Linked DNA regions of Homo sapiens: region 2 is linked to region 1. The links come from fine-mapping of genetic effects on gene expression. A gene starts in region 1. The other region holds a variant in brackets. All regions are shown on one strand. Distances are between the middles of the regions.

Region 1 (5,370 bases):
ACTGCATCCTTGACCCCCCGGCCTCCCCTGCACAGTAGCTGGGACCAAAGGCATGCAAGACCACACCTGGATAATTTTTGTATTTTTTTTAAAGACGAGGTTTCTCCATGTTGCACAAGCTGGTCTTGAACTCCTGAGCTCAAGTGATCTGCCCACCTCGGCCTCCCAAAGTGTTGGGATTACAGGCGTGAGCCACTGTGCGCAGTCAAGCTGAAACTCTTAAGCAAATTTTAAATCTTACTTTAAGGAACAATTTCCTCACCTGTAAAATGGGGACACGAGGATATGATGGAAGTGAAGTCACTTTGTAACTGGTAAAGCTCTGTACAGATATTAGTTAAGATGGTTAATTTCATTAACCTGTGAAGATTCTTAACTAAACCTTGCGCAAGTTGCATTGGCTGCCCTGTCTAGGCACTAATATCTTTAGACGGACTAAGGAGGAAACACACTTTTTTTTTTTTTGAGACAGAGTCTGGCTCTGTCACCCAGGCTGGAGTACAGTGGCATGATCTTGGCTCACTGCAACCTCTGCCTCCTGGGTTCAAGCAATTCTCCTGCCTCAGCCTCCTGAGCAGCTGGGACTACAGACTATGGCCAGCACACCCAGCTAATTATTTGTATTTTTAGTAGAGATGGGGTTTCACCATGTTGGTCAGGCTGGTCTCAAACTCCTGACCTCAAGTGATCCACCCGCCTCAGCCTCCCAAACTGCTGGGATTATAGGCGTGAGCCACCGCACCCGGCCTACACGCTTCTTTTCACAAGAATGACACCCGCAACTATACTTCCCACGTAAATGGAGAGCAGTCTGGCAGATTCATCTAGACCTAGGGTTGGGTGATTATTAGGGAAAGAAAAGGTCCAACCAAGCCAGTGGGCTGAAGAGAGGACATGACCTGCTCAGTCCGAAGCAGATGTGTGACTAAAGTCTAGTCTCCTGGCTTCTCTGCAAAATACCTCATTATCGGCATTATTAACCCTAACAACTGCCATTTATTGAAATCCCACTATGTGCACGAATGGGGACCAATTTACTTCTAGATATTACAACAATCTTGTATTACTGTGCCCACTTCCTGGATGATGGGTCTGAGGTTCACAGAGATCATTTGCCCAAGTTCCTACTGAAAGTGCTAAGGTATTTCCTGAGACTGGCTCAGGGTGTGTTGCCAGACAACAATGCACACATTTTTAACACAATACTAAACTTAGTATATTATACTTATGTTAAAAATTTCGGAGCCGGGCGTGGTGGCTCACGCCTGTAATCCCAGCACTTCGGGAGGCTGAGGCGGGCAGATCACTTGAGGTCAGGAGTTCGAGACCAGCCTGGCCAACATGGTGAAACCCCGTCTCTACTAAAAATACAAAAAATTAGCTGGGCGTAGTGGCGGGCGCCTGCAATCTCAGCTACGCGGGAGGCTGACGCAGGAGAATCGCTTGAATCCGGGAGGCGGAGGTTGCAGTGAGCGAGATCGTGCCACTGCACTCCAGCATGGTCGACAGAGCGAGACTTGTCTCAAAAAAAAAAAAAAAAAGGACATGTGGTAATTCCCCTAGGGAATTTGGCCTTAGTTGTGAAAAATAAAAAAGCTATAATCAATTTCTGTTCTATCGGAAAAAAATGTATTGGCTGTTTAGCTGAAATTCAAATGTAACTTAACATCCCGTATTTTTTATATGCTACATCTGGCAACCCTGGCTTGAGGCTACCTGGCAAAAATCAAAACAGGTTCCTCCTTGTTATGCCCTATGCCTCTGTTGCCTTTATTTTTATCTTTACGAGCAATCATTAACAGTAACTTCAGACTCCAGGCTCTGGTCGCTTTAGGAGGCGGAAGGCGGACTAGGGTAGGACTCCTGGCCCTCATCAACAGGACTGCCAAGAAGCCGGGCACCTTCTGCCCCGCACAAACATGGCCGCGCCTCGCCGCCGAGGATTGGCTCCCGCCGAAAGCTCGTCCTCCTGGCTAAGGGAGCCCCTTCCATTGGGCAGTTAAAAAAAATGGCGGACCCCGCCTCCCGCCGTCCTCGGGCGCGGGGGCGGAGCCTAGAGGAGGCCTGGGACAGGGCCACCAGTGATTGGCGGAGAGCGGTGGTCAGGCCATCACGTGGCCCGAGGCCCGTTTGTTTGCGGAAGTAGGAGGAAGTAGAAGTGCTGAGTAAGCCGAGGTGAGTGACCTCGCGGGTGGGCGGGGCCTGGGGGTCCGTTCCCCAACTTCCTCGGCGCTCCGGACTCCCAAGTCTCCGCCGGACCCTCCTTTGGATATTCCTCGTGTCTCCGATTCTGAGGCATGTCCTCCATTAACCCTTATGTGACTCCCTGAGTGCCCCCACCTTCCATCTTTTCATCCCCCTGCGTCCCCAATTCCCATCCCGAGACCGCCCGTGTCTCATCTCGAACTTGTGGACCCCAGGGACCCCAGCTTCGACCCTGAGTTTCTCCCCTGAACCCCAGTCTCCTCCGTGTGTCTCCCTCAGTATCCCTAACTTCCCGAGTCAATCCATCTCTTCTCTTTCCCCGACCCTCAGTGCCTCTTTAGGCCCCATTGGCCGTCCTAATTTTCCTTCCTGTGCTCCTCTAAGTGCTCACTTGATTCCCCACTTCACGTCCGTCTCCACCTTTCGTGGTGCCTCTACTCATTTCTCACTCCCTGCTTCTCCTGCCTTTCCTCCCTGCTTTTTTTCCTTGCCTTTCCTCTCTCGCGTGCCTCCAGACCTGCCCCCGACATGCTCCCTCCTTCCCCTCAGCCTGGCCACCCCAGAGTCTCCCACCCCTAATCCTGTGTCCACCTCCTGCTCCCACAGATGACTTGGAAGCTGGTGACAGGGAGCATGTGACCAGGGTGATCATGGGACTGGGTCGGGGCAAGCCTGTGGGTGTGGGACAGGGAGGGCACAGGGCAAGGGGACCTGTGGCCGTATTTTTAATGGGCTACCCACATGACCCCAACGAATACCTCCCCCTAGCTTCTGGGTCTTTCCCTCACCTGCCTCTTACCCGCCCAACAGGATGTCAGGCAGGTTCGGTTTGGCAACGTTGAGGCTGCACCCTTGGGCTGAATGCATTGTTTTTGAATGCATTGTTTTTGTTAGAGTTTCTGCCTGGAGTTTGGAACCTGTTTTCTGTCCAAGTCTCAGTTTCCTCATCTGTGACAGGGGAACTGTACCTCCTGCCCTCGTAAGTCTGCCATGAGGTTCAAAATTTGAATGAGAAAATGTAGAAGGTAAAGCTTTATAACCAGTATGGCCCTGTACAAATACATGATTTTACTGTTGGGTCATAGGCAGAATTGAAAGGAGTGGAAAGGGAAAGGGCTAGAATGAGAAGACAAGGAGAGAAGGATGAGCAGGAGGTCCCTTGTCTTTCAGTGTATCATTTGGCAGTGTTTGTTCATCACCTCTTGTGAGTCAGGCTCTTCTGTATATGTTCTCTTCACCATTCATTCAGTCATCGTTTATCTAACAAATATTTACGGACTGTCTGATGTTCTAGGCTACCCTTGGTGTGGCCAATGATATTCTCACTTCACATGAGAAAAAGAGGGCGCATGAGTTGCTTGAGGTCACACCGATGAGGTTGAAGCTGGAATCTGACACCAGAGCCTGTGTGATTGTCCTGATGTGTAAGGTTTGCTACTGTTTAGGACACTTCTTGTTCCTTCCGTGGATTACTTTCTTGTTACATGAGAGACTCCCCAAAAGGGAGTTTCCCTCTTACTCAGCAGAATGACATCACTAAGAGATACAGAAAGGAGAAATTTAAATACTCTGTGTGTGTGTGTGTGTGTGTGTGTGTGTGTGTGTGTGTGTGTCTGCAGACATCTATTGGGTGTGTGTGCTGGGGGAAGTAGGTAGGCAAGGAGTAAGGGGCCGTAGTGAAGAGTGTGTTACAAACTTCACTTTGTAGAGGGTGGCTCCCTGGGAGAATATGTTCTGTGTCTTTCACAGTGGATTTTGATAGGGTCATGTCTTAAATGCCTCTTCTCGTTTTCGGATGGTGATCTCATCCAGTCTTATTTCTTTAAGTGCCGTCTCTATTCTGTCAGCCCACAAATTTATATCCCCAGTCCAGTCCAGACCTTTCCCTGGAATGACATACTCAAATCTAGTTGCTTACTCAGCACCTCAAACTTAGGCTTTTCAAACTTGAAGTATTTATTTATTGATTTATTTATTTTTTGAGACAGAGTCTCACTCTGTCACCCAGGCTGGAATGCAATGGCACGATCTCGGCTCACTGCAACCTCCACCTCCTGATTCTCCTGCCTCAGCCTCCCAAGTAGCTGGGATTACAAGCATGCGCCATCATGCCCAACTAATTTTTGTATTTTTGTAGAGGCGGGGTTTCACCGTGTTGGCCAGGCTGGTCTCGAACTCCTGATCTCAAGTGATCCACCTGCCTTGGCCTCCCAAAGTGGTGGGATTACAGGTGTGAGCCACCGCGCCAGGCCTCAAACTTAAGAGTTTAGAATTGAGCTCCTGTTAGTTCTGCCCTCCATCCCTGACCCCACTCTTCACCAAAACATGTCCCTCCCACTCTCTTTCTCATCTTAGGACATAGGAGTATTGTTCATTCAGTTGCTCAGGTCAAAGCTGTGAGATTATCTATGATGCCTCTCTGTTTCTTACCCCACACCCAGCCAGAGTGATCTTGTTAAAATGTTGTTTCTTTGCAGTGGCCTCTCCTCTCATGGCACATGCCTGGCCCCCTGTTGCCTCTCTGATGTCACTGGCTTCCTTGCTTTTCCTGGAACTCGCTAAACATGTTCCAGCCCCATGGCCTTTGCACACGCTCTCTTTGCCTAGCTATTCATATGACTTTCATCTCTCTCCATCAGGTATTTATTTAAGATCAATTTCTTGGTGAAGACTTCTCTCCTCACCCAATCTAAAATTTCACTCTCCACCTCAGCACTTCCTATCCCCATTCTCTGGTTTTTCTCCTCAGTAGTTAATTGTCATCTAAAACCTTTGTAAATATTTACCTGTTTATCTTCTTTATTATTAGTAGCTCTGTCTAAAATATAAGTTCCAGGATGTCAGGGATTTTGTGGGGTTTTTTTTGGTTGGTTGGTTGTTTTGGTTTTGAGACAGGGTCTCACTCTGTTGCCCAGGCTGGAGCGCAGTGGTGCGATCTCAGCTCACTGCAGCCTCCGCCTCCTGGGTTTGAGTGATTCTCCCACCTCAGTCTCCCAGGAAGCTGGAATTACAGGTGCACGCCACCACACCCAGCTAATTTTTGTATTTTTTGGTAGAGATGGGGTTTCACTATGTTGGCCAGGCCGGTCTTGAACTCTTGACCTCAAGTGATCCACCCGCCTCGGCCTCCCAAAGTTCTGGGATTACTGGTGTGAGCCACCGCGC
Region 2 (5,368 bases), 54 kb after region 1:
TATCCTCTCTCCATCTCCAACAGAAAGACAACGTGGAGATGATCAAGGCCCTCATCGTGTTCGGAGCAGAAGTGGACACCCCGAATGACTTTGGGGAGACTCCTACATTCCTAGCCTCCAAAATCGGCAGACGTATGTGCTCTGCACTCTGGGGCTGGAGTGGGGTGAGGGTTGGGTGGATACAGGGACCGAGGAGGAGGGAAGTCCCAGGCATCAGGTGCCAGCATCCTGTGCTGACCCGCCCTGCTCAGAGCTGCCAGGAGCACCTCGTACTCAGAGAGGGGGCTTCCTTACCCAAGCACAAGGGCCCTGAGCAGTAGATGCAGGCCCACCACGGGGCTTGCTATACCAGCATCCTCTCCCGTGCAGCGCCCCCCACCTCAGGGAGCTAAGATTCCCAGCAGGGGTGGGGACAGGAGAGCCAGCAGCAGCCTTCTTTCCCCACCGTTGGGGAATTCACTGATGGAACCACTGGCTAGAATGACCAAGGGTGCATGCACTACACTGCACGAGCTCTGGGCATGCCTGTGTGGGCAGAGTGCATGGCCATGTGCTGCACGCTCGCACAGTGAGCCTTAGCTTCAGAGCTGGACAGAGCAGATCCTCCTCACCAGAGGCCTGGAGCCCGCTCTGGAGGGTTTCAGCAGCTGTGGGGGTCACTGTGGGCAGGTACCTGATGGCAGCAGTGTGTGTGTGCCAGTGCACACGTGTGTGTCTGCATGCACCGCATCTATGACCTCCTTTTCAGCAATCCCATCCATCAAATGGAGTAGGTGCCCCCTGGCTGGCTCATTAGTCCCTTTGGAACCCTGAACTATCACTTAGCATTTTTGAGAATCACTGAATGTGGCCATGGGATTCCTGCTTTCTTGGCTGGAGTAGAAGGAAAGAAGGGGTTCCCACAGGCATCGGGCAGGGTGACACTGACCTCCTCCTCCCATATCCTCCTTCCCTGGCCTTAGGAAGCTGCTTGGGATGTACCAGCCTGGGGGCAGCACTCCCTGTCAGGGTGGGCTGAGGCCTCTGGAGCAGCCCACGTGCCCAGGGCCTGGGAGCTGGGACAGGGGACGGAGTGTGGAAAGGAGGGGCCTCTCCTTTGCATGTTGACATCATTTCTGATCCTGTGCCATCTCCCCTTCCCCAAACCATGACAAGTTGTCACCAGGAAGGCGATCTTGACTCTGCTGAGAACCGTGGGGGCCGAATACTGCTTCCCACCCATCCACGGGGTCCCCGCGGAGCAGGGCTCTGCAGCGCCACATCATCCCTTCTCCCTGGAAAGAGCTCAGCCCCCACCGATCAGCCTAAACAACCTAGGTAGGCCTCGCCTCCCGACTCCCTCTTCTCCAGCTGGTTCCCAGGCCCCTGGATCACAGCAGGCCCCACCAAAGCAACAGGATCCCTAGGACGGAAGTCACTAAAGGAAGCCGGGGAGGATGGGGCCGGAGTTGTCAGCCTCTAGGCAGCCAGCAACCCACAGATCCCAGAGGCCTAGGGTGTCCCTGGCTGATGTCCCATGCTCCGTTGCCCCTGAGAGGATGTGTCCTGCACACAGTCTCAGGCCTGGGCATTTCCAGTGGCACCCATGAGGTGGCTGCTGTTACTGCCCTCCTGTCCCCAGGGCGTTCAGGGTGGGCAGTGAGGAGTGCTGTCGGGGGACTGGGGGCCCGGGCCCTCTGGCTTCACCTGTCCCTCTGGCTTCACCTCTATCACACTGTTTGAATCTCGGTTGGGCCTGAGACCTGTGTGCCCCCTTCCTGGCCCCGTGGTGACTTTCAGACGTTGAATGTGGCCAGGCAGCCAGCATCTGCCCCGGTGCATTCCTTGGTGCCCAGGGAGACATCCCCAGACTAGACAGGACCCTTCTCTGGACTTTCTGTGGGCTGGCCCACTCAGGGACCTCCATTGTTTGGGAGCGGGGTCCCCTGAACAGAGGGCAGCCAGGAGCCAGTCCTTGGTGAGCCAGACTTCACTGTGGAGGCGGCAGCACCTTCAGCCAGGGTAGCCCGACCAAGCCTGGAACTCTGGAGAGGCACCGTGACTGTGGCTTCTAGTCCTGGCTCCACCTCTCTCTCCCCTCCCAGGAACTCCCCCTCCACCTCCCATCTTTATCTCTCAATTTTGCAGGCAGTCACCCAAGCCAGGCCGGATGGTGGGCCTGGGGTGCGGCGTCAGATGGGTAACGCCCTGGGCCTGGAGAGGCCACCGAGCCTAGCCATGCGGCATTAGCTCTAGCTCTCACTCCCTAATCCGTCCTTCTTAGCTGCGCACACACCACACGCCCCCTCCCCTGCACCCTGTCCCCGGCCTCTCTCAGCCACTCTTCTGCTTCCCTTGTTCACTGTGGAGCCGTGTGCCCTGGGGAGGGGGAGACACCGCTTCGCAGCCCTCGGTTCTGCTTTGCTGCTTCTAGACTCTGCACAGTGGTGGGGGGCTGTCAGAGTTGGGGTCACGCGGGCTGCTGCACCAGGCACCTGGGGACTGGGCTGCTTGTCAGGAGGGGCAGCTAGTCAGTTGGGTGGACGTCAGGCAGGCCTTGGACACAAAGGAAGACATGGACAGAGTGGATGGTGGGCCTGATCCCGGAGGCCACTGGGATTTCCAGACCTGGGATCAGGACGAGGGATGTCTCCTTTCATCCATGGACTTAAACCCCGAGGAACGTCCTGACTCAGCCTTTTGACTAAATGACCTTGGGTGAATTA[T/C]GGACCCTCTTAGAGCCTCACCTGTCAATAGGGAATAAGAATTCTTAGGCCCCAGGTGGTTATTGCAGCATCGGCTCCGATGCAAGAAGAAGCACTTTGTCTGAAGAGGACACGCAAGGGTATTCATGCCTTGGGGTTTCAAGAGGAAGAGATTGAGGGGAACCTGGGAGCTGGCTGGGCAGGGTGGGGAGCCCTTCCCAGAGCAGTGGGCCCCCCTTTCCACTCCAGCCCATTTCTCTCCTGTGGCCTGTGGCTCAGCTTTCTCCTGGGACAGAGTCCTTCCTGTGGGGAAGGGACAGATGACAGGGGGAGTGGGGGGATGAGGGCGTGGCCGTGGGCGAGGCACAGCCCAGGTTTGATCTAGGGACCTCTGGGGTAGCAGGGCTTGGGGACCCACCTGACCACAGCATGCCCTGCTCTGTGCCTCACAGAACTACAGGATCTCATGCACATCTCACGGGCCCGGAAGCCAGCGTTCATCCTGGGCTCCATGAGGGACGAGAAGCGGACGTAAGTGGATCGAGATCGGGGGCAGAGCGGGGAACGTGTGCGCTTTCCTGCCCCTCACCCACCCCCTGTTGTGGGCTCAGGGCTTTACTCTCTGCACCCTCACAGCCGGCGAAGTGGCTCTGCTCCTAGTCTTATAGTTCTCAGCAGAGACAGAACATGGAGAGCCTGTGTCGCTCGTTCATTAATGCTGGGCGGTGCAGGCTCTGGAGACCAGCCCAGGGTGCCAGGCTTCTTGGACTTGGTGGGGCTGGCGCAGTGTTCTGGCCTCCCTCCCTGATCTCCTTATGGCTAGAAGAGGGGGAGATGCCTGGGTCCCCCCTGGGGAGATCTCAGCAGCTGCTTCCCACTGCTCCTACTGGCTTCCTTAACCACCTCCCACTGCAGAATAGTGGCGTGGGCTGCCTTCCCCAGCACCTGCTGTATACCTAGTCCCATTGTAAGAGGCGGGCCTGGGTGACAGGATGCAAAGAGAAGACGCCCAGGCCTTGCCCTTCAGGCATAATCCCGGGTGCTTGAACTCAGTGCCAGCTGGCACGGCAAGGTACCAGGACAAATGCGTTTCCAGCCACTGTGCTGTCGCCACCTCCCTTGATTGCTGCAGTTGATTCATTTATTCTTTATTAGTCTCTCATGTTCCTAATAGCCTTCCCAGGGAGGAATTTGTAACCTTGTTTTACAGATGCAGAACCTGAGCCCCTGAGAGGTGAAGTGACTTGCTCAAGGTCACACGGAGTGAGTGTCAGGGTGGCAACTCACAGCCGGGTCTTCCGAACCCACGTCCTTTGTGCTACCGCAGGCTCTCTCTGGGTTCTCTGTGGACTCTATACCTAGTGCCAGCCCTCTGCAGGGAAAGCTCTCTTCTCAGAATCAGAGGCAGCTCCACTCCCAGGGCCAGGCAGTGATCGTGCAGCTCTGTGGGTCCTCTCACTTCGCACTCACTTCCATGCTACCCTGTTGTGTGCCCTGGAGGTTCCCCTGCCCCATCAGCATTCCCTCCCCTGTGCCCCCTGCATGCTCTTGCACGCGGGCACACGCACACACACACGCACACATGCACGCACACACACCCACATGCACATGCCTGCGGGTTGCCCACATGCATGTGTTGCCCACATGCAAACACATGGACACGCACACACATGCACACATGCAAACACACGTGCATGCACACACATACACATGCGCACACATACACATGCATGCATGCACATGGACACCCACACACATGCACACACATGTACACACATGCATGTACATACACACACCTGTGCAGGGGCTGAGGTGAGGCAGCTGCACCTGAAGGGGGGACCCACATTTCCCAAGGGAGGAAAAGCAGATTCCCCAGATTCTGGAGCCTCAGAACCCTGCCTGGAGCGGGGCTGAGGCAAGAGTCAGGAGACCCCTCGGTAGCTCCCCACTTGGGCCTTCCAAGCTACAGAGCCCTGCGCCCTCTGGGTTGATCTCTGTCGCCAGCCCCGCATCTTCGGGAGTTTGCTTTGGCCTCCAGCAACAGTGTAGTCTCTCCCCTGCCACCTCTAGGCTTGCTGTGGGGCTGGGTACCTGGTCCAGGAAAAGACCCCTAGAGGTGGGACCCGGGCCTCCTCCATTTATCAGCCCTCTTGGGCACCTCCTGCATCCCCTTGACACACAGCGCTGCCCAGAGCAGAGGCGGCTTCTGCCCTGGTGGAGCTTCCAGGTCAGCGCAGGAGAGAGTAAAAGAAAGATTGCGAATGGAATGGAAGCAGCCTCCACCAGGAAGCAGGTGGAGCAGCAGGCGGGCTGTGAGGGAGGGTCTCGATGGCATCAGGGCAGGCTTCTCTCAGCTTCATCAAGCTGAGATGGGAAGATGAGAAGATCAGAGGAAGGTTCCAGACTGAACCAACCACAAAGGCATTCCCCCAGGGCATGGCCAATGAGGACAGGCAGGATGTGGGGAGACGTGTCAGGGCGCGCTGGAGAGCATGTGACTCAGGAGGCGGCAGACCTGGGTCCAGGTCCAGTCCGCATCCATATGACTTGGTTCCCGTCACCTAACCTCTGAGCTACACTCCCTCCGTCACTCAAAAATATGCACAGAGAGTAGGCGCAGTGGCTCCTGCCTGTAGTCCCAGCTACTCGGGAGGATCACTTGAGCTCAGAAGGTTGAGGCTGCC

The links. PIP is the estimated chance that this variant, and not a neighbour inherited with it, causes the effect.
Region 2: its variant is fine-mapped to the expression of PLA2G6 in tibial nerve (GTEx, PIP 0.91).

Annotation. Positions count from the first base shown.
Region 1 is chr22:38,178,589-38,183,958 of GRCh38, reverse strand. PLA2G6 (phospholipase A2 group VI) reads left to right here and starts at 2,129. Exons shown (of 17, transcript NM_003560.4): 1 at 2,129-2,295. RefSeq lists enhancers at 1,857-1,966, 1,883-2,177, 2,127-2,576, 3,207-3,276, 3,557-3,726.
Region 2 is chr22:38,124,218-38,129,585 of GRCh38, reverse strand. PLA2G6 (phospholipase A2 group VI) reads left to right here. Exons shown (of 17, transcript NM_003560.4): 8 at 24-132; 9 at 1,156-1,317; 10 at 3,137-3,215. Among named protein-coding and RNA genes, the nearest start is that of BAIAP2L2, 16 kb to the right of the region's middle. The variant T/C (reference allele first, on the strand shown) is at 2,706.